4 separate regions of the Homo sapiens genome follow, and regions 2, 3 and 4 are each linked to region 1. The links come from fine-mapping of genetic effects on gene expression. A gene starts in region 1. Each other region holds a variant in brackets. All regions are shown on one strand. Distances are between the middles of the regions.

Region 1 (5,719 bases):
CCAAGGCTTCAGCACCCACTGTGCGTGAGAAACCACGCTAAGCATTTGTGCACAGACCACCCCATTTGATCCTTCAAGATGGGATCGTGTTCCCATTGCTTGGATGAGAAAACTGAGGCCAGATTGTAAACGGTCAGATCAGGGTCACCCCACCAGGAAGAAAAACAAAGTAGGCTCTGCAAACGTGGCTGCTGCACTGGCCGCTGGGAAACTCCAAGCTTAAATTAGGTTCCTTGTTAAATTATTCATTATCTCCTCTCTTTTCTCCTGTTTATGACTTCCGCCTTATCGTTTTGTTCCCCGGGTTAATGCTTTTTGTTTATCTGCATCTGTGGCCTGGAATGAATGAATCAACAATTTTGGAGGAAAAAAAAAACCAATTCTAAAGTTGAGTTCCTCTGTTGGGCACCAGGCCTTCTCCAAATATGTGCCTTGAGGAAATAAATGCTTTCGACATGATCAAAACACAAGGACTGATGTGCAATCTTGCTTGGTGGCTGTGAGCCCTCCAACCCCCTTACCTTTGTCAATATCCCCCTTTTATTTACTTCCGCTCTGTTTTTTTTCCTTATTTTTGAGAGTCTCACTCTGTCGCCCAGGCTAGAGTGTGCAGTGGTGTGATATTGGTTCACTGCAACCTCCGCCTCCCGGGTTCAAGAGTTTCTCCTGCCTCAGCCTCCCAACTAGCTGAGACTACAGGCACCTGCCACCACGCTCGGCTAATTTTTGTATTTTTAGTAGAGATGGGGTTTCGCCATGTCGGCCAGCCTGGTCTCGAACTCCTGACAAGTGATCTGCCCACCTTGGCTTCCCAAAGTGCTGGGATTACAGGCATGAGTCACCGGGCCCGGCCTCTTTTCTCTTATTATTCCATCTTCAGGCACCAATGGCAGCCAGGCTGCCACATTATAGCAATTCATCATCACACCCTCCTTAGGAGCAGGGGCTACCTTGCCCCATTTTACAGATGAGAGCTGAGATCCAGAGGCAAATCCATTCTACAGATGGGGAAAGTGAGGCTCCGGGCCTCACACAGCAAATCAGTGTTTTAGCTGGGTTCCAACTGTGGCTCGTCCTGACTCCAGGGAAGCAGGGGATGGTAATTAGGTGAGACCTGTGTAAAGTGCTTACTCTATAAGAAGTGCTCCATCATCCATTCATTCATGTGTTCAACCTACAATAGGGATCTCTGGAGCCACACTGTAGTGTAACTAGAATAAAAACGGGATAATGGGACCAGGCGCGGTGGCTCACGCCTGTAATCCCAGCACTTTGGGAGGCCGAGGTGGACGGATCACTGAGGTCAGGAGTTCAAGACCAGCCTGGCCAACATGGTGAAACACTGTCTCTAACAAAAATACAAAAATTAGCCAGGCGTGGTGACAGCACGCCTGTAATTCCAGCTACTCCGGAGGCTGAGACAGGAGAATAGCTTGAATCCAGGAGGCGGAGGTTACAGTGAGCCGCGATCACGCCACTGCATTCCAGCCTGGGCGACAGAGTGAGACTCCGACTCAAAACCAAACAAACAACAACAACAACAACAAACCGGGATAATGGGATAGAGTGGAGTGGGGCGTGGCTGGTAGCTGTTGTCAGGGAGGGCTTCTCCCAGGCGCTGCTTATTTGAGCAGAAATTGGAAAGATGAGAAGGGGAAGTTCTTGGATGCTCAAGTTAGAGGAACTGTAAGAAGCTGGCTGAGGCGGGAGGATCACCCGAGCCCAACTACTCAGGAGGCTGAGGCGGGAGGATCACCTGAGCCCAGGAGTTTGAAGCTGCAGTGAGCTATGATCATACCACTGTACTGAGGCCCAGGTGGCAGACCCCATCTCTGAAAAAGCAAAGAAGGAGCAGCTGGTTTTTCTGGATCATTGACATGGTGGGGGGGAGGGGACAGGGTAGTGGGCGCTAATGTGAAACGGCGAGCTGCAGAGAGGAGGCGGGATTTTATTCCAAGGGTACTGGGGAGCCGTGGCACAGTTTAGGGCAGCGCACAGAAAGTGCCATGCCCTTTGCACCCAGGACGCTGGGGCTCCCGCACGGACAGTAGCCCCAGGGGCCCTTCCCGCCGCCGCCGCAGCCGCCACCACCACCACCACCCCAGCCGCCCACGTGTCCCGCGAAGCCCCGCGCCCCACGTGCTCCCGCGGCCCTTTAAACACCCCGGAGCCACGTGACCGCGCTGCGCCGTCCCATTGGCCGGGGGGCGTGGCGGCCGCGCGGCTGCGCAGTGACGCGCACGGGCCGGCCCTGCCCCCGACCCGGCGGCGGCGGCGGCGGCGCTGGCGGAAGGGATGACGTCACCGGCTGGGGGGGCGCGCGAGCGGGAGCTAGGGGAGCGCGAGCCGCAGTGAGTGTCCTCGCGCCGCCCGCCCGGCAGCCCGGCCGGCGCGCGCACGCCGCGAGCCGCTGGCGCTCGGGCTCCGCTCGGATCCCATGCAACAGCCACGATGTGAAGCGGGGCAGAGCCGGGGGAGCCCAGCCCAGCCAGCCTCCAGGTAAAGCCAAAAAAAAAAATAAAATCATGGATTAGAGGAAAAAAAAATGCAGGCGCTCCAAGGGGGGTCTCGGAGGCAGCCGAGTGGGCAGCGCGCCGGCTTTGTGCCGGGGAAGCCTGCACGGCCATTGTGCTCGGAGGATGCTCGGCTGCAGCCAGTTGCACGCCCAGCCGCTGCGCCCCGGTAGCTGCGCCCGGACAATGCCCCGAGGGACAGGGCCGGGGCCGCGCTGGGGGCGCTCGGCAGGGGGTGCTGGGGGGGCTTCGTCCGCGGCGTGGGAGGGGGCTGGGCTGGAAGCGCCCAGAGCGCGGCATTGGAAGCTGCCCAGCGCCGCCGGCTGCACCACCCCGGGCTGCGGGCGGGGCAGAGGCGCGGAGGGGGGCGCGCGTGTGTGCGGAGCCGGTGCCGGCCCCGGCGGCGCCCGGCCCGGGTCCCCGGGCGGGTCCTGGAGGCAGGGGGCGCTGTGCCGGGGGATGGGGGGCATGCGGGCGCCCCGGAGCGGAGAGGAGCCGGGACGGGTGGCTCCAGGCGGGGTGGCTCCAGGGCTGCTGCGCCCGCCGCCTTCCCTCTCCGGGTCTCCCTCCCCTGGAGACCCCCTAGTCTACGCCGTCTCCCCTGGAACACTCCGGGCCCTGTCGTTGCCTTATGGGAGGTCGCCCCTCCGGCACTCGGGCATTGCCCCACCCTTCTGCGGCCTCGGCGCCCCCTTCCAGCCTCCCCACCCAGGGGCGAGCCTCAGCCCCCAGCCCCAGGGGCTCTGGCAGGCAGACGCGCACGCCCAGCACCCCAGTCTCCCCTCCGCGCTGGGGGCCCCGTGGGGATCCCGAGAGTGGGGAAGCCGCCCCTGGAACCGCCAGCCCCGCGGGTTCCGCACGCCCCGGGAGCCCCCGGGGGCTGCGGGGGGAGGGGAGGTGACGTCATACCGGGGGCGGGGCCGTCGGCACTGGGTTAAAGGGGGCGCGGGGCGTGCCCTGAGGGGAGCCCCCCAGGTTAGAGTGCCCGCGCCGTGGGTGCGAGGGTTCGGCCAGGTTGCGGCCAAGTTCACCTCTCTTTATGGGAATCTCTCCTAAAATTAAGATCCTCCCCTTCGGACCTCCCCCTACAAATCCTGGACATTTCCCACCAATTCCCCCCCTTCCCAAATTGGGGAACTCCCCTTCGGCCGCTTTCTCTCCAGAATCCTCAAATCAGGGAACCTTTCCCACAAACTGGGAATCTTTTTTTCAGCCACACCCCCCGCCCCAAATCTGGGACCTCCTTCTTCGGTTGACCCTCTTTCCCCAGTCTCAAATCGTCTTCTCGTCTCCCTAAATATGCAGCTTCCAAGAACGCCCCTTCCTCTGCAACCCTTCCTCAAATCCAGCCACCTCCTGGGACCTCATTCCCCCAAATTAACAAACCTCCCAGAGCCTCATTGGGGGTGCCTTGCCTCCCCCTTCTGGGCTCAGCTGGGATTCCCCTGTCCCCCCCCGTCACAATCTAGGGGAGCCCCCTTCTGAGCATGGGGTCCTCCTGCCTCTGGCCGAGACCCTAAAAACACATCCCGGCAGCCGCGGCTAGTGAAGCGGGTGTCCGAGGTGTCGGAGTCCCGGCTGAGCAGCAGGGATGATACCTAGAAGCCGGAGGAGGCAGGAAGAGACCCCTAGGGTCCCAAGGACAGGGACCCACACGCTCCGGGCTCCCGTCCGCCACCACCCGGACTTTGGCTGCTGGGATTCTGGCCTCCTCTGGGTGGCCCCCTATCGCTGCTGTCCTTGGGGTGCAGAGGGTGACGGCGCCTCTTTGTCTGGGGCGCCCTTCTTCCCTCTTTCTGCCGCCTTTCGCCCGGGAGAAGGAAGCCATCCCGCTCCTCTGCTCCTGCGATACCAGCGGCAGCTGCTGGAGCGTTTATTAATGGCCCAGGGACTTGGTCGAATCTGCCATTTGCATAAGTCCCCTCCCCCTCCCAGGGTCCCTTCCTTTGTGCCCCCCTCCCCCTGCCAATCGCGCCTGCCTTCTGTCCCTCTGCTCTTCTTTCTTTGCCAGCTGATATTTTGGCGGTGGAAGGCAGGCAGCTGGGGCTGGGGGCGGCTGCTTCCCGCCCTCAAATCCCACAGCCCCCCAGCTTGGGCCTGACTGAGTCCCCACCTGGGCATCCCTCCCCTACCCCCCCGCTGCCCTCCACAAAGCCTTCCGTGGGGCATCTCTTTCTGGCTGGCAGGCTGGCGGAGTCTTCATTATTTCCCTCCGGGAAGCAGGGTCCTGCCCTGTTCCCCAGGCCCGGGGGACACCCTCATCATGACGGTGCACTTCTGCATGGGGGCTAGGCCTCCCAGCCCCCTGGGGGCCACCGCCCGCCATACTCCATCATCCTGAGAGTTGTTCTAATTGGGCTCAGGCAAACAAAACGTCGCAGGAGACCCAGGCTGCCTGGTGAGCTCACGCACTTTTCTATTTCTGCCACCCTGGCCGATGACATTGCCCCTAACCCCCCAGGGGGTGACAGAGACTGGTACTGTCAGTGGCCGTCCAGAGATGCCGTCCCAAGAGGCGGTGGACTGGCCCGCTCCCCACTCCCCGCGGGAGATGGGTGACAGGTCATTTTGGCGTGGCCCGGCTGAGGCGCTGGAGGGTGCTACTGGTTGGCAGGTCAGCTCCGGGGACGATTTCCCCCTCTCCAGGAAACCTTGAGAGCCTCTGAAGTCTGCGTGAGGTGGCGACAGAGAAGGGGACATTCAAACCCCAGGTTCCTGCCTGCTGCCAGCAGAGAAAAAAAAATCACTCCTTATACCCCGGTTGAGCGTTCAGTGCGCCTTTTTTCCCTGCCTCCCAGGGGATTTCAGGCATCGTCCAGTGTCCATGGACCCTGCTTGGAGACACAAGTCCATTTTCCCCCAATTTCCACCATGGAACAGGGGGAAGCTTCGTGGATGCCAGGGATTTCGTGGTAGCATCTGGGTGGGGAGACCTGGAGCCATCACTGTGCACCCATTTTTTTCTTCTTTGGGTCGCATAGAGCCTGGGGCTCTGCCTGGGTTTCCCCAGACCTGGTACCAGTCTGGAGGCAAATCTATCTCTGCTCATCAAACGTCTTTCTGGGAGGTGACTTGGTTTCCCCTTCTGCCTTCGGGGTTGGCGTTGAACAGCGGTTCACAGATGTCTGAGGGCAGCGCACACCTCCACTTGCCAAGATGGGGAGACCTGTGGCTTCGCTGATTATTCCAGCGGCTGCATGGCCCCA
Region 2 (5,719 bases), 31 kb after region 1:
CCCACCTCAGCCTCCCAAAGTGCTGGGATTACAGGCGTGAGCCACCGCACCCGGCCCAAGGGATGCACATTTCAATATTCACTCCCTCTCGCCCAGTTACCCTGCAGAGAGCATCTGCCATCTCCACCCCAGCCGCCAGCCAGGGAGCTCGGGTCTCCCCTGAACAGCTTTGATGAGACAGGAATGTTCTTTTTCTTTCCTTGGCTGCTCCCAAGATACTTATATCCCCACCCCCAGCCTCCACCCAGGGGATGGTTTCAGGTCTAAAATTTTCCTTCAGACCCCAAGGAAAGCTTCTGTGTGTTCAGAAAACAACCGTCGTGTCCTTTCTGGGCCCAGGACCCTGCTGGGGGCCTAGAGCTCCATCACTGGATACTTATTGAGCACCTCCTATATACCAGGCCCTGATCCTCACAGGGTCAGGTGTTGGGAACAGAGTGACGGAGAAGACAGAGGGAAAAACCCTTCCCTCGTGGAATGCATCAGAAGGACAATGAACAAATAGGGGCCGGGCGCAGTGGCTCAGCCTATAATCCCAGCACTTTAGGAGGCCAAGACGGGCAGATCGCCTGAGGTCAGGAGTTCGAGACCAGCCTGGCCAACATGGTGAAATCTCATCTCTACTAAAAATACAAAAGGCTGGGCACAGTGGCTCATGCCTGTAATCCCAGCACTTCGGGAGGCCGAGTCAGGTGGATCACGAGGTCAGGAGATCGAGACCATCCTGGCCAACAGGGTAAAACCCCGTCTCTACTTAAATAAAAAAAATTAGCTGGGCGTGGTGGCATGCACCTATAGTCCCAGCTACTCGGGAGGCTGAGGCAGGGGAATCGCTTGAACCAGGGAGGCAGAGGTTGCAGTGAGATCACGCCACTGCACGCCAGTCTGGAGACAAAGTGAGACTTGGTTTCATAATAATAATAATAAATAAAAATACAAAAATTAGCCGGGTGTGGTGGTACAAGCCTATAGTCCCAGCTACTCAGGAGGCTGAGGTGGGAGGATCACTTGAGCTGAGGAGTTCAAGGCTGCAGTGAGCTGAGATTGCGTCACTGCACTCCAGCCTGGGTGACAGAGTGAGACCCTGCCTCAAAAAACAAAAACAAGAAACACCCAAAAAACAAAAGCCATAAAGCCAATAGATTAAATATGTGTTAAGGATTGACTGTATGCCATGCCTTTAAGAAAAATAAAGTTGGCCAGGCGCAGTGGCTCATGCCTGCAATTTTAGCACTTTGGGAGGCCGAGGTGGGCAGATCACTTGAGGTCAGGAGTTTGAAACCAGCCTGGCCAACATGGTGAAACCCTGTCTCTACTAAAAATACAAAAATTAGCTGGGTATGGTGGTGGGCGCCTGTAATCCCAGCTACTCGGTAGGCTGAGGCAGGAGAATTGCTTGAACGGGGGAAGCGGAGGTTGTAGTGAGCCGAGATTGCGCCACTGCAGTCCAGCCTGGGTGATAGAGTAAGACTCCATCTCAAAAAAAAAAAAAAAAAGAAAAGAAAAAAGCTAGAGGAATTGGTTGGTGGCAGGGAGGGGCTGTTTTAGCTACAGAATCAAGACAGGCCTCACAGAAGAGGTGACATTTCAGTAAGACCAACAGGAATAAGAGAATGATGTTTGCTGACATCTGAGGGGAGGGTGTTCCAGGCAGAGGGCACAGCCCGTGCAAAGGCCCTGAGGCAGGACCGCACCTGGCATGTTGGAGGAACAGCGAGGAGGCCTGTGTGGCTGGAGCAGAGTGAGGAGGGGGAGGAGGGGAGGGGAGAGCAGGGAGAGGACAGAGCAGGTTGTGCAGGCCCTTGTGGGGCACCAGGAGGACTTGGGCGTTTACTCTGAGGGAGGTGGGAGCCAGGGAGGGCTATGGGCAAAGGAGGAACCAGCCCTGACCGACGTGTTCACAGGCGACCCCTGGCTGTTGCAGAAAGGACAGACTGTGGGGGATGAGTGCAGACGCTGGGGGACCAGAGCAGAGGGGACGGCACAGATCCAGGCCAGGGATGATGGGGGTGGACCAGGCAGGGGCAGAGGAGGGGTTGTATTCTAGAAGGATTTTGCAGAAGGGTTGGCTGGCTTCTCCAAGTGGTTGGCTGCAGGGTAGGGTTGAGATGAGTCAAGAACGACTCCCAGGCCTCTGTCCTGAACATCGGTAAAGACGGAGAAGATGAGCTGAGGTGGCGAAGATGGTGAGAGAGGCAGGCATGGAAACGCCCCCATTAGCAGGACGCCTGCGGAGGTTCCCAGGAAGTGGTGGGCTGGTTCTCCCTGGAGACATGGAGTTGGCAGCTCCTGACTTAGCCCATAGCGGGTTTTCAGGTGCTACAAGCAAGCCATTGGCTCTGGACAAGGCACATCCTATCCTCAGCCTCAGTTTCCCCATCTGAGATAAATAACTGGCACAACAAAACGAGTTAATATGCGTCAAGCACTTAGAGAGTGGCCTGCATAGACAGGGCCCTGGGAGGGGCTGTGGGCTAC[A/G]CACTTGGGGCTGGATGGGGCTAGAGGTTAGGACAGGAAGGGAGGTCTAATTTGCAGACCAGGGGGCTGAAGCCCAGAGAGGTTAAGGCACTTGCCCAAGGCCACACAGCACGTGGCACAGGCTCAACCCCACTAAGGGGCCTGCACACTCTGCTCACCACCAGAGCCAGCCAACCCCCCCTTCCTCCCTTCTCTCTCCACCCCCGGAGCTGCCAGCTCCAGTTTTTGGTGGTTTCCAGGCTCCCCTCAGTTCCCACTTGGCACTCACCTCCCACCTCCACACACTCTGAGCCCAGGGCCTAGTGCCAGGCAGGCTGTAGGGCCAGGGGGTCTTGGTGAGCATCCTCCACTTCTACACCCAGGGTTCCTTTTGCCTCCCTGCCCCGTACCCCACCCGTGCTCCTGGTAATGAAGGGAGAGGAACGGGAGGGAGCGAGCAAAATTATATACACACGAACATACAAAAATTAGTTTAGGATCCGGGCCAAGAACCACTTGCGCTTGGCCAGGCATTGTGGGTAATTCATTGCTGATTACCATAAAAGCCATAGCCTGGCTGACAGGCGGCTGCGGGGCTTTTGTTTAAGATTCTGATGAATATATAATCTCTCTCCCCGCCTGGAGCCCACAGTTCCCCTACCCCCAAGGCTGCCAGGTCCCTGCCCACCCTGCTCTCTTCCCCCACTGCTGAACGTGAGTCTGCAGGTTCCCCGAGGGGCTGGCAGCCACCTCTGCCGCATGGAGTCTGCCCCTGTGACTGCGTCGGTGAAGCTTGGCTTGGCACTCGATGCTCACCACCAGCCACAACTAGCCCAGGCCTTGCACTGTGGCTGCTGCCCTGGGCCTGATTCCCTCTCTTCCGTGTGGATGTACTGGGCTTCAGCTGTTTGCTTGGCCCCATGCTGGGACTGGGGACACTATAGTGACTGATGCAGACAATCCTTGCCCTTAAGGAGTCTGGGGGGACGATGGATGATTAGACGGGCATTTATCTATAGTTAAAGAGTTCCCATCTCCTGCCCAGGAGATGCAAATTAAAACAAGATATCATTTCTCACCCATCCATTTAGCAAAACTGTTTGAAGTGTGGTATTATCCAGGGTGGCAGCGTCGAGGGGAACCAGGCCCTCCGGGCGTGGCTGGCAGGAGAAGAAATCGGCATCTCTGTGACACCACGTCTTTTATTTTTAATATGTTGTTCTGGCCAGAGAATGCGTACACATGGGATACAATTGAGGATGCAGAGAAAAATGCATGGTGGAGAATCTCCAGATCCTCTCCCCTCTCTCTTTCCCCAGTAGCAGTCTCTTCCCAGAACAGGGTCAGTAGAGTTTTTCCATAAAGGACCACCTTGTAAATCTTTCCAGCTTTGCCGGCCGGATGATCTCTGTCTACTACTCAACCCCGCCATTGGAGCGTGAAAGCAGCCATAGACAAACACGTAAACTGGTGGGCGTGGCTATGTGCCAATAAAGCTTTATTTATAAAAACAAACGGTGGGCCGGATTTGGCCCCCGATATGGCGATGATAAAAATGGTCTCCGTCTACGCACCGTGGTACAGTCGCCCTGAGCCGAATGTGGCTATTGAGCGTTTGAAATGTGTCCAGTGCAACCGAGGAACTGAATTTTAAATTTTATTCCATTTTATTCCGTTTAAATTTAAACAGCCACATACGGCTCGTGGCTACGGTTTTGAAGAGCGCAGTTTATCTAGAAATCTTCTGTGAACATTTAGTAGGCGGCTGGATTTATATTCCCTTGTTTAACCAAATGGCAGCATCTTCTACATGCTGTTCTGTACCTTGTTTTCTTCCCCCCCACTTAAAAATATAGTATCTTAAAAGTAATTTTATAATTGTACATCTGGTATTCTCATTCCTTTTCACAGCTGTGATACTGATCTCATAACACTAAGAGATACTGATCTCATAACACTAAGATACTAATCTCTTCGATCATTATTTGACCTCTTGTACTGTTATTTTTATTTATTTATTCATTCATTCATTTATGTATTTATATTTTTGAAATGGAGTTTCGCTTTTATTGGCCAGGCTAGAGTGCAATGGCATGATCTCAGCTCACTATAGCCTCTGCCTCCTGAGTTCAAGCAATTCTCCTGCCTCAGCATCCCGAGTTGCTGGGATTACAGGTGCCGGCCACCACACCTGGCTAATTTTTTTTGTATTTTTAGTAGAGACAGAGTTTTGCCATGTTGGCCAGGCTGGTCTCGAATTCTTGACCTCAGGTGATCTTCCTGCCTCAGCCTCCCAAAGTGCTGGGATTGCAGGCGTGAGCCACTGTGCCTGGCCCCCTTGTACTGTTCTTTACTTAACCAATCTCCTATCGATAGACATTCAGGTTGCTTCAAGCCTTTTGCCGTGAGTACTTTCTCCACGTGTCATTTCACGGGAAAGTGTCTGCCGGGTAGATTTCTAGAGGTGGTGTTATCAGGCCTAAAGGGAATGTATAAACTTAACTTCGGAAGATAATAGCCAATTGTCTCCTCGGGGACTATTAGGACCTACTCATTTCCGACTGTGTAGGAGGGGAACCTGCTTGTTTAGAACAAGCTGTAACCCGACCTTCCACCCCAGCTGCCCTTCACTGGACACCAGTGAGAGACAAAAATGCTTCCCCAAGGGGACCTGGGAGATGTCAGCATGGAGATTCACCATGGCATTGGGTGAGGTTGGGAAAAAATGGAGGCAACCGAAGTGTCCACAGGGAATTGGGTGATAAACGCCCAAGGCACAGCCTTGCCACGGAAGATCCTACCACAGGCGAGAAGAGGCCTGGGCTGCGTGTGCTCAGTAGTTACAAGTCATGTGAGGAACAGCCATGATTCGAACAGAATATCATTTTCACATACAAAAAAAAAATCACCCTGGGCCAGGTGTGGTAGTTCATGCCTGTAATCCCAGCACTTTGGGAGGCCGAGGCCAGCGTATCACTTGAGGTCAGGAGCATGAGACCAGCCTGGCCAACATGGTGAAACCCCGTCTCTACTAAAAATACAAAAATTAGCCAGGCGTGGTGGCGCACGCCTGTGATCCCAGCTACTCGGGAGGCTGAGGCAGGAGAATGACTGGAACCCAGGAAGCGGAGGTTGCAGTGAGCTGAGATTGTGCCGCTGTACTCCAGCCTGGGTGACAGAGTGAGACTCCGTCTCAAAAAAAAAAAAAATCACCCTGTATTCTAGAGTTACCTTTGATCAATAACTTCATGAGAAAAAGACA
Region 3 (5,719 bases), 20 kb after region 1:
TCTTGGTTCATGCAACCTCTGCCTCCCGGATTGAAGCAATTCTCCTGCCTCAGCCTCCTGAGTAGCTGGGATTACAGGCATGTGCCACCATGCCCAGCTAATTTTTCTGTATTTTTAGTAGAAATGGGGTTTTGCCATGTTGGTCAGGCTGGTCTCAAACTCCTGACCTCAAATGATCTGCCCTCCTCGGCCTCCCAAAGTGCCAGGATTAGAGGCGTGAGCCACCTCTCCCAGCCTCGAATGCTTCATACTCATTATCTGCTTCTCTCCTCCTCTACCATGTCCATGGCAGCATCTGCACACAGTAGGGCTCCAGGCATACATTTTGCCTAAGCAGCTCTTCCCAGGGGAAGAAATGAGGCTCTGAAATGCATGAGGTCTGTTTTTTCTTTTTCTTCTTCTTCTTCTTCTTTTTTTTTTTTTTTTTTTTTGAGACGGAGTTTTGCTCTTGTTGCCCAGGCTTGAGTGCAATGGTACGATCTTGGCTCACTGCAACCTCCACCTCCCGGGTTCAAGCGATTCTCCTGCCTCAGCCTCTCGAATAGCTGGGATTATAGGCGTGCGCCACCATGCCCGGCTAATTTTGTATTTTTAGTAGAGGCAGGGTTTCACCATGTTGGTCAGGCTGGTCTCGAACTCCCTGCCTCAGGTGATCCGCCCGCCTCAGCCTCCTAAAGTGCTGGGATGACAGGCATGAGCACCGCGCCCGGCCGCCTGAGGTCTTTCTGCGGGCTGGAGGCAGTGCTTGCGGGGAGCAGGTGGCTTCCACGTTCTTGCTTTTAACCACCCCCAACCCGGGAGTCGGCCAGTCGGGGCGGGCTCGAGTCGGTCCCCGCGGCTGCTTCTTCCTCCCACCCCCGCATTCTCACCTCAGCCTCCAGAAATAGCCCCTTTAAAATAGCCACGTCCTCGAGTTCCGGGGCCTCTGCCTGCCCACGGACGTGGTGCTGCGCTGACGGGCCAGCCTCCTGAGTGCTGTGGGGTTTTTAAAAATATAGCTGGTGTTAGGTGATATTACCTCCCTTTTAAGCCTGAAAAAGCCCAGCCACCAACAGGGCTGTGTGTCACTGTGGATACTCCAGCAAGGCACGGCCGCGAGGGTGTCTGCTGTGCAGAGCTGGGGAGGGCTTCCGCTAAAGGCTCACGCCAGCTCAGGCGGGGACCGTGGGGCCTGCAGTTCCCTGTCAGGTCAGGAAACCTCAGATTTGAGGCTCAGTGCTGCCTCTTGCCGGCTGTGTGACCTCTGGCAACTGTTGAAACCTCTCTGAGCCTCAGTTTACCCAAATGGAAATGGGGACAATTTCAGGGTTTGGATAAATGGTTAAATTTCTCTGAGCCTCAGTTTATTTGTGAAATGGGGACATCTCAGGGTTTGGGCAAATAGCTGAACTCAGCCTCAGCTTACCTATGTGGAAATGAAGACAGTTTTGGGGCTTGGATAAATGGTTCTATTTCTCCAAGCCTCGGTTTACCTGTTTGTAAAATGAGGACATCTCAGGGCTTGGGCAAATAGCTGAACTTCCCAGCCTCAGTTTACCCATCTGGAAATGGAGACAATTTTGGCGCTTGGATAAATGGTTCTTTCTCTGAGCCTCAGTTTACCTGTTTGTAAAATGGGGACATCTCAGGGCTTGGGCAAATAGCTGAACTTCTCAGTCTCAGTTTACCTGTCTGGAAATGAGACATCTGAGGCTTCTCCACTCTGGGCCTGGCACACAGTGGGTACTCACGAGGCACGAGCCAAACTCCTTACAGCACTGAGGCCTCTACAAAATGACCCTGTAGTCGATCTGGGTCAGGGTTTAGTGAATTTAGCATTAGCTCTGAGCCTGCCACTTCTAGGCGGTAGATCCTTCAGGAAATCGCTTCCCCCTTGAGGGACTCAGTTTTCCTCATCCCTAAAATGGGCCCATGTCACTGGGTCGGGAGACATCAGGGAGATGAAGCATAGCTGCCCTTTTCCCCAGGTCGGAATGCTCCGTAGACGTGACTCACATTTCCCTGTTACCTTGATTTATTCTTTTTATTTTTCTTTGTTGAGACAGGGTCTTGCTCTGTTGCCCAGGCTGGAGTACAGTGGCATGATCATAGCTCACTGCAGCCTCAACCTCCCAGGCTCAGTTGACCCTCCTGCCTCAGCCCCCTGAGCAGCTGGGACTATAGGTGCACACCACCATGCCTGGCTAATTTTTTTGTTGTTGTTTAATTTTTTGTAGAGACAAGGTCTTGTTATGTTGTCCAGGCTGGTCTCGAACTCCTGGGCTGAAGTGGTCCTCCTGCCTCAGCCTCCCACAGTGCTGGGATTACAGGCATGAGCCAGCACCGGGCCCTTGTTTTATTCTTCTCATTCGTTGAGACTGTGTTGATTAGTGGCCAAAACCAGATTCTAGGGCCAGATGGCTCTGTCCCTTAGTAGCAATGACTCCACCTCTCTGGGCCTCAGTTTCCTCATCTGGAAAATGAGGATAATGATAACCTCAACCATCCAGGCTCCCTTGGGAGGATCTAGTGAGTTCATAGGGTGAAGCCCTCAAATCAGGGCTGGGCTCAGCATGAGGACAGTGTGACGATTGTAAAGAAATCCAGGCCGGACGTGGTGGCTCACGCCTGTAATCCCAGCACTT[T/C]GGGAGGCTGAGGTGAGCAGATCGCCTGAGGTCAGGAGTTCAAGACCAGCCTGATCAACATGGCGAAACCCCATCTTTACTAAAAAGATACAAAAATGAGAGCCCAGCATGGTGGCGTGCACCTGTAATCCCAGCTACTTGGGAGGCTGAGGCAGGAGAATCGTTTGAGGCAGAGTTTGCAGTGAGCCAAGATCACACCACTGCACTCCAGCCTGGGGGACAGAGCGAACTCCGTCTCAATTAAAAAAGAAAAAATCCATTTATTTGCTAGATGTTTATCAGGCTTGTCCCTACACTGGCCACTTCCCGGGAGCCGGATAAGCCAAGTGGATGGTGCTTGTGTCAGCCTGTGTGTTTGGCTTCAAGGTCCGTGTACCCCCTCTCCCACTGGGGCAGGGATTAAACCTGCCGGAGGGACCTGTCCAGCCAAGGCCACGGGCACTGGCTGCCGCCCCTGCTTCCTGCTGTGTCACAACAGGTGTTGAGCCGCCGGATGGCAGAGGGCAGGGGCCTGGCTTGCCAACAGGGACAGGAAGGCCCCGGCTGGAGTAGGCGTGGAGGCTTCCGCCGTCAGCCTCCGGGGTCTCAGCGGCTGCTTTGGCCGCAGCCACTGCCTCCGATTTTGCGCTTTCCATCATCTGGGGGGATTTCTCAGATGCCTCCTGTCCACCAGGCTCTGTGCCGGGACCCTGAAGCAATAAAGGGGATGGCTTTGTGGATCAGGGAGAGAGATGATAGGCAAAATACGATATATAGCACGTCAGGGGTGATCAGAGAAAGCAGTAAAGGAACAAAGGGGACTCGGGAGGGAGGCATGAGGGTTGTCATTTTTAATGGGGCTGTAGGGACGGCTTCATTGAGGAGGTGATGTTTGAGCAAAGCCCTGATGGAGGTGAGGAGGAACCAAGCAGATAACGTGGGGGAAGAGCATTCCAGGCAGACGGCACAGCGTGTGCCAAGGCCCCGGGGCAGGACCACGCCTGGCGTGTTGGAGGAACAGCGAGGAGGCCTGTGTGGCTGGAGCCCAGTGAGTGATGGGGAGGGGAGAGGAGGCAATAGGTCATGTAGGGTCTTGTGGGCTGCAGGGAGAACCCTGGGCTTTGAGCCCTAGAGAGGTGGGAGCTATGGAGGGCTGTGGGCAGAGGAGGGACAGGACCTGACTCAGATACTCATGGTTGATGCCAGGGATGGACCAGGTGAAGGCAAAGGTGGGTGGTGGGGAGAAGAAGCAAGTGGATTTGGGATAGCTTTTTAAAAAAAAAAAAAAAAAAAAGACAAGGTCTGGCTCTGTCGTCCAGGCTGGACTGCAGTGGTGCAGTGCAATCTTAGCTCACTGCAACCTCCACCTCCTGGGCTCAAGTGATCCTTCTACCTCAGCCTCCCAAGTAGCTGGAACTACAGGCGCACACCACCACGCATGGCTAATTTTTTAATTTTTAGTAGTGATGGGTTTTGCCATGTTGGTCAGGCTGGTCTCGAGCTCCTGACCTCGGGTGATCTGCCCACCTTGGCTTCCCAAAGTGCTGGGATCCCAGATGTGAGCCACTGCGCCCGGCCTTGGGATGGCTTTTGAAGGTAGAGTATCCCTCCTTTTTTTCTTTCCATGTCTGGGGTTAGTGGCCAGGCTGAGCTGATGCTTTCTCTTCGATCCTTCCATTAGAAGTTTCCAGAACTCAGAATTTCAGGGACAAATATGGAGGGGAGGGCAGGCCAGGCCCTTGCCCTCCAGGGACTCACTGTCTGTTAAATGGAGAATACAAACAGATCAAGAGATTGCAGTGTGGGCCTCTCACTTAGCAATTCAAGGGGAATAGGGTGCTAGACACCCTGACAGCCTAGGCCAGGAAAAACTTTTTTAAAAATAACATCAGCTGGGCCCAATGGCTCATGCCTGTAATCCCAGCACTTTGGGAGGTTGAGACGGGAGGATCACTTGAGCCCAGGAGTTTGAGGCTGCAGTGAGCTGTGATCTCACCATTGTACTCCAGTCTGGGTGACAGAGCGAGACCCTGTCTTTCAAAATAAAAACAAATAATAACAACCACCACCAAGATAATATCTGCAGTCTATCAGCTGCTTCTCAGGTGGTGTGAACAGCTCTGTGTGCCTTTCGATTCAGTCTTCACAGCAGCCATGTGAGGGGAGGAAGAGACTTTTATACCCATTTTACAGATGAGGAAACTGAGGCCTAGAGAGTCGAGTCACCTGCCCAGGGTCACACAGCATGGCCAGACTGCCTTGCTGTTGGACCTAGCTGGGGTGCAGCCTGTTCTGTCCTGTCCTCATTCCGTCTCGCAGCATTTCACGGTCATCATTCCATCATTTCTTCTTCTTCTTTTTTTTTTTTTTGAGACAGTCTCACCTTGTTGCCCAGGCTGGAATGCAGTGGCACAATCTTGCTCACTGCAACCTCCGCCTCCTGGGTTCAAGCGATTTTCCTGCCTCAGCCTCTAGAGTAGCTGGGACTACAGGCAAGCGCCACCACACTTGGCTAATTTTCATTTTTTTTTTTTTTGGAGACGGAGTCTCGCTCTGTTGCCTAGGCTGGAGTGCAGTGGCGTGATCTCGGCTCACTGCAACCTCCACCTCCTAGGTTCACGTCACTCTCCTGCCTCAGCCTCCTGAGTAGCTGGGACTACAGGCACCTGCCACCATGCCCAGCTAATTTTTTGTATTTTTAGTAGAGACGGGGTTTCACCGTGTGAAGCAGGATGGTCTCGATCTCCTGACCTCATGGTCCGCCCGCCTCGGCATCCCAACGTGCTGGGATTGCAGGCGTGAGCCACTGCGCCTGGCCTAATTTTCATATTTTTAATGGAGACGGGGTTTCACCATGTTGGCCAGGGTGGTCCCGAACTCCTGAGTGCAGGTGATCCACCTGTCTCAGCCTCAGTGCTGGGATTACAGGCATGAACCACTGCACCTGGCCCCTTACTAATTTCTAGGTGGGCCACACACCCCACCCTCTTACTTTAAAGATCTATGTGAGTTTGGGTTCTCTTATTTGAGATGTTTGCTTGGGCCCTGCCCTGCCCTGTCCTATTTTAGGAAAATTTGTGCTGTCAGTAGCCACCTGGACCAGTGGAAAATCTAGG
Region 4 (5,719 bases), 75 kb after region 1:
AGCCCCATGTCCCATCTGGGCCTTTGTAAGCAAATACATGTGTATTCTTTAAACAAACAGAAACATTGTCTACGCCAGGAAGCAGCACACTTTTTCTCCAGACCACCAGGAAGTAAATATTTTTGGCTCTACAGGCTGGACGGTCTCTGTCGCAGCAACAACCCAAAACTCTGCCATTGTGTTGGAAAAGCTGAGAAACGAATGGGCGTGGCTGTGTGCCAATAAAACTTTATTTAATTAATTAATTAATTTATTTATTTATTTATTTTGAGATGGAGTCTTGCTCTGTCGCCCAGGCTGGAGTGCAGTGGCGCGATCTCTGCTCACTGCAAAGTCCGCCTCCCGGCTTCACGCCATTCTCCTGCCTCAGCCTCCCGAGTAGCTGGGACTACAGGTGCCCGTCACCAAGCCCGGCTAATCTTCTTTGTAGTTTAGTAGAGACGGGGTTTCACCATGTTCACCAGGATGGTCTCGATCTCCTGACCTCGTGATCCACCTGCCTCGGCCTCTCAAAGTGCTGGGATTATAGGCGTGACCCACTGTGCCCGGCTGATAAAACTTTATTAATAAATACAGCTACAGGGCTGTTTTTGCGGCCCTTTACCCCCTCCACTCCAGCATTCCTACCAGATGCAGAGGAGCTGCCTATTTCTTGGTCTTAACAGCACTGCGATTTGTCACTTTTTTGTCACTTGTCCGTTGGAGTGGAGTTGGGGGGGCGGGGGGGCACGGTTATTAGTCTGCCCTACGTGGCTGTTTCCTAATCTCTTTTTTTTTTTTTTTTGAGACAGTCTTGCTCTGTCGCCCAGGCTGGAGTGCAGTAGCATGATCTCAGCTCACTGCAACCTCCACCTCCTGGGTTTAAGCGATTCTTCTGCCTCAGCCTCCCAAGGAACTGGGATTACAGGCGTCCGCCACCATGCCTGGCTAATTTCTGTATTTTTAGTAGAGACGGGGTTTCACCATGTTGGCCAGGCTGGTCTCGAACTCCTGACCTCAGGTGATCCACCTGCTTCGTCCTCCCAAAGTGCTGGGATTACAGGTGTGAGCCCCCACGGCCGGCCCATCTTGGTTTGTAGAGCACCCTGGATGCAAGGCAGCCCGTCACTTAGCTGGCTCACCTCATCACCTCAGCCCAGAAGCATGTTCCCACCGCTCAGGGAGCTCTGGGACCAGGAGATTCCAGGGACCTGAGTTTCTCCTCCTTGTCCCCGCTCCCCCCCGCCCCCACATCACCACCGGTCTCCATTTACCATGGAGGGGAGCCAGAACCTCACCACCCAAGAGGGATACCGAGCGCTGGAGACCTGGTGCCACTCACTCACCTGGTGCTGGAGGATTGAGTGCTCAACCAGGATTGAGTTGTTTGTTCATTGATTGAGCTCCTACTGTATGCCCGGTTCTGCGCTGGGTGCTACGGATGCTGTGGTGACACAGATGCACCGTTACAGATAGAATTCCCTGCTGCAGAGGAGAGTGAGGAGTGTGGGGGCATTTAGAGCAAGGGAGTTGGAGCTAGTCCCAGGTGGTGTTCCGATCAGTAGACAGATGTGGGAACGGGGATTCCAGGCTGAGGGAACAGAACAGGTGACCCGAGGGAGGGGGCTTGATGACTTTGAGAGCCGTGGAGGCCAGGGTGACTGGGCCAGAGAGAAAAAGAGGAGGGAAGGTGGCAGGGGCCAGCAGCGGGCAAGCAGGCAGGGTTCCTTCTGAGGGTGGCCGGACCACAGAAGGGTGTACAGCGGGGGAGCAGTGTGGTTTATGTTTAGAAAGGCAGGTGGGGCTGTGGCTCACACCTGTAATCCAGGCACTTTGGGAGGCCACGGCAGGTGGATGATGAGGTCAGGAGTTCGAGACCAGCCTGGCCAACATGGCAAAACCCCTTCTCTACTAAAAGTACAAAAATTAGCCGGGCGTGGAGTGCATGCCACTGCCTTCCAGCCTGGCCGACGAGTGAGACTCCATCTCAAAAAAAATAAATAAATAAAAAATAAAAACGGTGTCCTCTGGGCCAGGCACAGTGGCTCATACCTGTAAAATACCTGTAATCCCAATGCTTTGGGAGGTCAAGGTGGGAGGATTCCTTGAGCCCAGGAGGTCGAGACCAATCTGGGCAACATGGTGAGACCCTATCTCTATATTTTATTTATTTTATTTTTATTTTTAGTTTGATTTTTTTTGAGACCGAGTCTCACTCTGTCGCCCAGGCTAGAGTGCAGTGGCGTGATCTTGGCTCACCACAACCTCCGTCTCCCGGGTTCAAGTGATTTTTCTGCCTCAGTCTCCCGGGTAGCTGGGATTACAAGCATGCACCATCATGCCCGGCTAGTTTTTGTTTTTAATGGAGACAGTGTTTCACCATGTGGGCCAGGCTGGGTCTTAAACTCCTAGCCTTAAGTGATCCACCTGTCTCGGCCTCCCAAAGTGCTGGGATTACAGGCATGAGCCACCGCGTCCAGCTGATTTATATGTATATATCTCTCTGTTTAAAAATTTTTTAAAAGATAAAAAGAAAGGCGTCCTCAGGCTGCTGTAAATGAACCCACTCAGCACTGTGGACCTTGGGGCCAGGTTTGTGCTTATATGTAGTAGGGTGTAGAGCATCTCTCAGCCCCACCCAGTCCATTCCAGGAGCACCCACCCCCAAGTCCTGACCCCCAAGTTGTGACAACCTCAGATATCCCCAGACATCGCCCAGTGTCTCCCAGGGCAGCAGAGTCACCCCCCAGTGAGAAATATCATTCTACCTGGCTCAGCTCCCTGACACCAGCCTCCCCCTTGTACAGAAGAGGGACCCAACCAGGTGCAGTGGCTCATGCCTGCAATCCCAGTGCTTTGGGAGGCAGAAGTGGGAGGATTGCTTGGGGCCAGGAGTTTGAGACCCGCCTGGACAACACAGCGAGACCCCCTCTCTACAAAAATTTTAAAAATTAGCCAGGCGTGGTGGCGCATGCTTGTAGTCCCGGCTACTCAGGAGGCTGAGGCAGGAGGATCACTTGAGCCCAGGTTGTTGAGACTGCGGTGAGCTATGATCG[A/T]GCCACTGTACTCCAGCCTGGGCAACAGAGCAAGACCCTGTCTCAAAAAAAGAGAGAGAACTGGCTGTAAAGGATGGCACCCATGGCTGAGGTCACGCAGCCAGGGAGGAGCTGGACCCGTGGCCAGGCAGTCCCTGAGCCCCAGGCTCAGGAGTGGCTGTGCAGTGCTCAGAACCATGCCCATTTCTCTCACGTCTCTGCCCTCAGAGGACCAGCTGCCCTCTGGCTTCCCCAACATCGACATGGGCCCACAGTTGAAGGTGGTGGAGCGGACACGGACAGCCACCATGCTCTGTGCAGCCAGCGGCAACCCTGACCCTGAGATCACCTGGTTCAAGGACTTCCTGCCTGTGGATCCTAGTGCCAGCAATGGACGCATCAAACAGCTGCGATCAGGTGAGTGAGGGTGGCTGACAGGACGTGGGAGCCTTGGAGGGCAGCAGGGGGTGGGGAGCATCTCCAGGGCCCAAGTTCTGGGGACTACTGGAGGACAGACAGAGACAGTGTGTGGCCGTGGCAGGCGTTGGCTCTGGGGGAGTGGGGGCAAATGTCTTCAAAGCCGCACACTGAGGATATTAGGGGGCACAGATGGGCATGAGTACTGGAGAGCTATAGAGGGTGGTAGAAGAATAGTGCTTCAACACCTGGCCAATGAAGATATAATGGATGCAGACATGCACAAGGATGGGGAGTTATATAGGGCCATGGGCGGGGAGAGTGTCTCCCATGCTCAGGCAGTGAGATCACAGCTGTCACCCACAGACAGTTGTGGGTGATAGGAAGCCACTGAGGGGGCTGGGCGCAGTGGCTTATGCCTGTAATCCGAGCTCTTTGGGAGGCCAAGGCAGAAGGCTTGCTTGAGGCCAGGAGTTTGAGACCAGCATGGGCAATGTAGCAAGACGCTCATCTCTGAAAAGAAAGAAAGCCGCCAAGGATGGTGGGTATCGGCAGTGCCCAAGCAATGGGAGACAGACAGGCAGAAGTGTCAGTGAGCCATGGAGGGTGACAAGGGGAGACCAGCTTCAATGGGTATGTAATAGGGAGCTATGGAAGGTGGCAGAGAGCATCCTCTACAGAAGCATTAGGCACGTCCAGTGAGAATACAGTGGGGCCCAGACAGGCAGGAGTAGTGGAAGCTGTGTAAGGCAATGGCAGGTGTCCAGAGGTGACAAGTAAGGTGATGGGGAGCCATAGAAAACTACAGGGAGAGAGTCTCTCCAAGGCTGAGCAGTAAGAGGTGATGGCGGGGCTTCAGGTCTGTAAGGGGGCACAGACGGGCAGTCCAGCCTGTCTGTTCAGGCCCTGGCTGGGCTAGGGAGACCTTGGGACAGAGCCTTGGAGACGGGTGGTTCCACCATTGTGTCTCCACAAAGCACCCACATGGCCCATCTGTGGGTCCATCTGTCTGGGGGGCTGTGTCTGCGTGTGTGTTGTCCCCCCGCTTCACGACATGTCCACGTGTGCATGTCTGGGCTCCCTGTGCCGGCCTGGCCTGCCTCCCGCCTGTGGGCACAGGTGTGCAGGCCTGGCTGCTGTCACACACGGGCCTCCCTTCCCCCGCCCGGAGCAAAGTGTCCGCCTGCATCTCGGCCACACGTGCACCCACATTGCAGTCACTCCCGTGCCTGTGCACACAGGGCAGTGATCCGCGCACGCGCCTCTCAGCCTGCACCTCCCTAGTGCTCGTGCGTGGGGACACACGTGGTGGGGATGTGTCTCCATACATTGGGAGCACACGTGTGGCTGCACATGCGTGTTTGTCTGTGTCACGGATTTACTGTTTTCAGTTGTGCCGGGCTTGACGCCCTGCCTTCGTTCAGGTCACTGTTGAGATCACCCTGCACCTCCACACACCCCTCTTTTTGCTTTCTCTCTCCCCTTCCTCCGAGGATCCCGCCACGGAGCCCCCTTTGCAGCAGTACCTCCCCGAATCATCCCCAGCGCCCCTCACTCACTGCCCATCGTTGCCCCCCACCAAAGAGCCTACCTACCTGTTCTCCGCTTTCTGCTCCTCCTCCTTAGTGAAAACCAAGCCCCAAAAAGATCAGACGTGGAGCCCAGAATGTCTTCCTTGGAGAGACTCAGACCTCACACTGGGGGGACAAATCGCCTCCTATCTCCCAGCCTGGCTGAGGATGTTTGCAGCTCATAGGCCTCTGCAAGCAGGGGGAGCGGTGGCCTCAGTTTCCCCATAAAACATGCCTATTTTCCTTGTGTTCTGGTGACCTCTCCAGGATGGAATGTCTAGCGCCTGCTAGGTGCTCAGTGAACATAAGCCACTTTAGGAATCATAAGAAATGTTGTTATTATTATTCTGAGCGTCCCCCTCCCCTCCCCCGCCCTCCCCTCCTCGCTGAGGACATAGGATTCTTTGTAACCACCCGTTAACGTTCCTGTTCTCTTTTCTTATCCTCCTGTTGTAAACGTTCAGAAACCTTTGGTAAGTCTGATTTCATCACCACGTCAACAACTAACGCCCCATCCCCTTTGTGCCCCTTCTGCTCCCCTTCTCCTCACCAAACTAACAGCCACCGTGATGGTAACTGTGACCCACTCTGCCTGGTATGTTTACTAACGCCCTCTCCCTCCTCCCCGCGACCGGCCCCTCAGCCCTCCCCAGCTGGCACTAGTGTGCGGCAGAGAAAGAAACCCAAAGGAAAAGAGGAAAAGAGACAAGTCCACCC

The links. PIP is the estimated chance that this variant, and not a neighbour inherited with it, causes the effect.
Region 2: its variant is the best candidate, but not a certain one, in a credible set for the expression of PTPRS in fibroblasts (GTEx, PIP 0.89).
Region 3: its variant is the best candidate, but not a certain one, in a credible set for the expression of PTPRS in skeletal muscle (GTEx, PIP 0.87).
Region 4: its variant is the best candidate, but not a certain one, in a credible set for the expression of PTPRS in whole blood (INTERVAL, PIP 0.58).

What each region holds. Positions count from the first base shown.
Region 1 is chr19:5,337,444-5,343,162 of GRCh38, reverse strand. It overlaps PTPRS (protein tyrosine phosphatase receptor type S), which reads left to right and starts at 2,351. Exons shown (of 38, transcript NM_002850.4): 1 at 2,351-2,499. It overlaps LOC105372252 (a long non-coding RNA gene), which reads right to left. Exons shown (of 5, transcript XR_936279.3): 5 at 5,097-5,706. RefSeq lists a silencer at 2,144-2,423 and an enhancer at 4,290-4,963.
Region 2 is chr19:5,306,096-5,311,814 of GRCh38, reverse strand. All of the region lies in intron 1 of PTPRS (protein tyrosine phosphatase receptor type S), which reads left to right. Among named protein-coding and RNA genes, the nearest start is that of PTPRS, 32 kb to the left of the region's middle. The variant A/G (reference allele first, on the strand shown) is at 2,479.
Region 3 is chr19:5,317,592-5,323,310 of GRCh38, reverse strand. All of the region lies in intron 1 of PTPRS (protein tyrosine phosphatase receptor type S), which reads left to right. Among named protein-coding and RNA genes, the nearest start is that of PTPRS, 20 kb to the left of the region's middle. RefSeq lists enhancers at 827-1,096, 2,620-3,119, 3,120-3,621. The variant T/C (reference allele first, on the strand shown) is at 2,625.
Region 4 is chr19:5,262,720-5,268,438 of GRCh38, reverse strand. PTPRS (protein tyrosine phosphatase receptor type S) reads left to right here. Exons shown (of 38, transcript NM_002850.4): 5 at 3,243-3,431; 6 at 5,467-5,475. Among named protein-coding and RNA genes, the nearest start is that of PTPRS, 75 kb to the left of the region's middle. The variant A/T (reference allele first, on the strand shown) is at 3,036.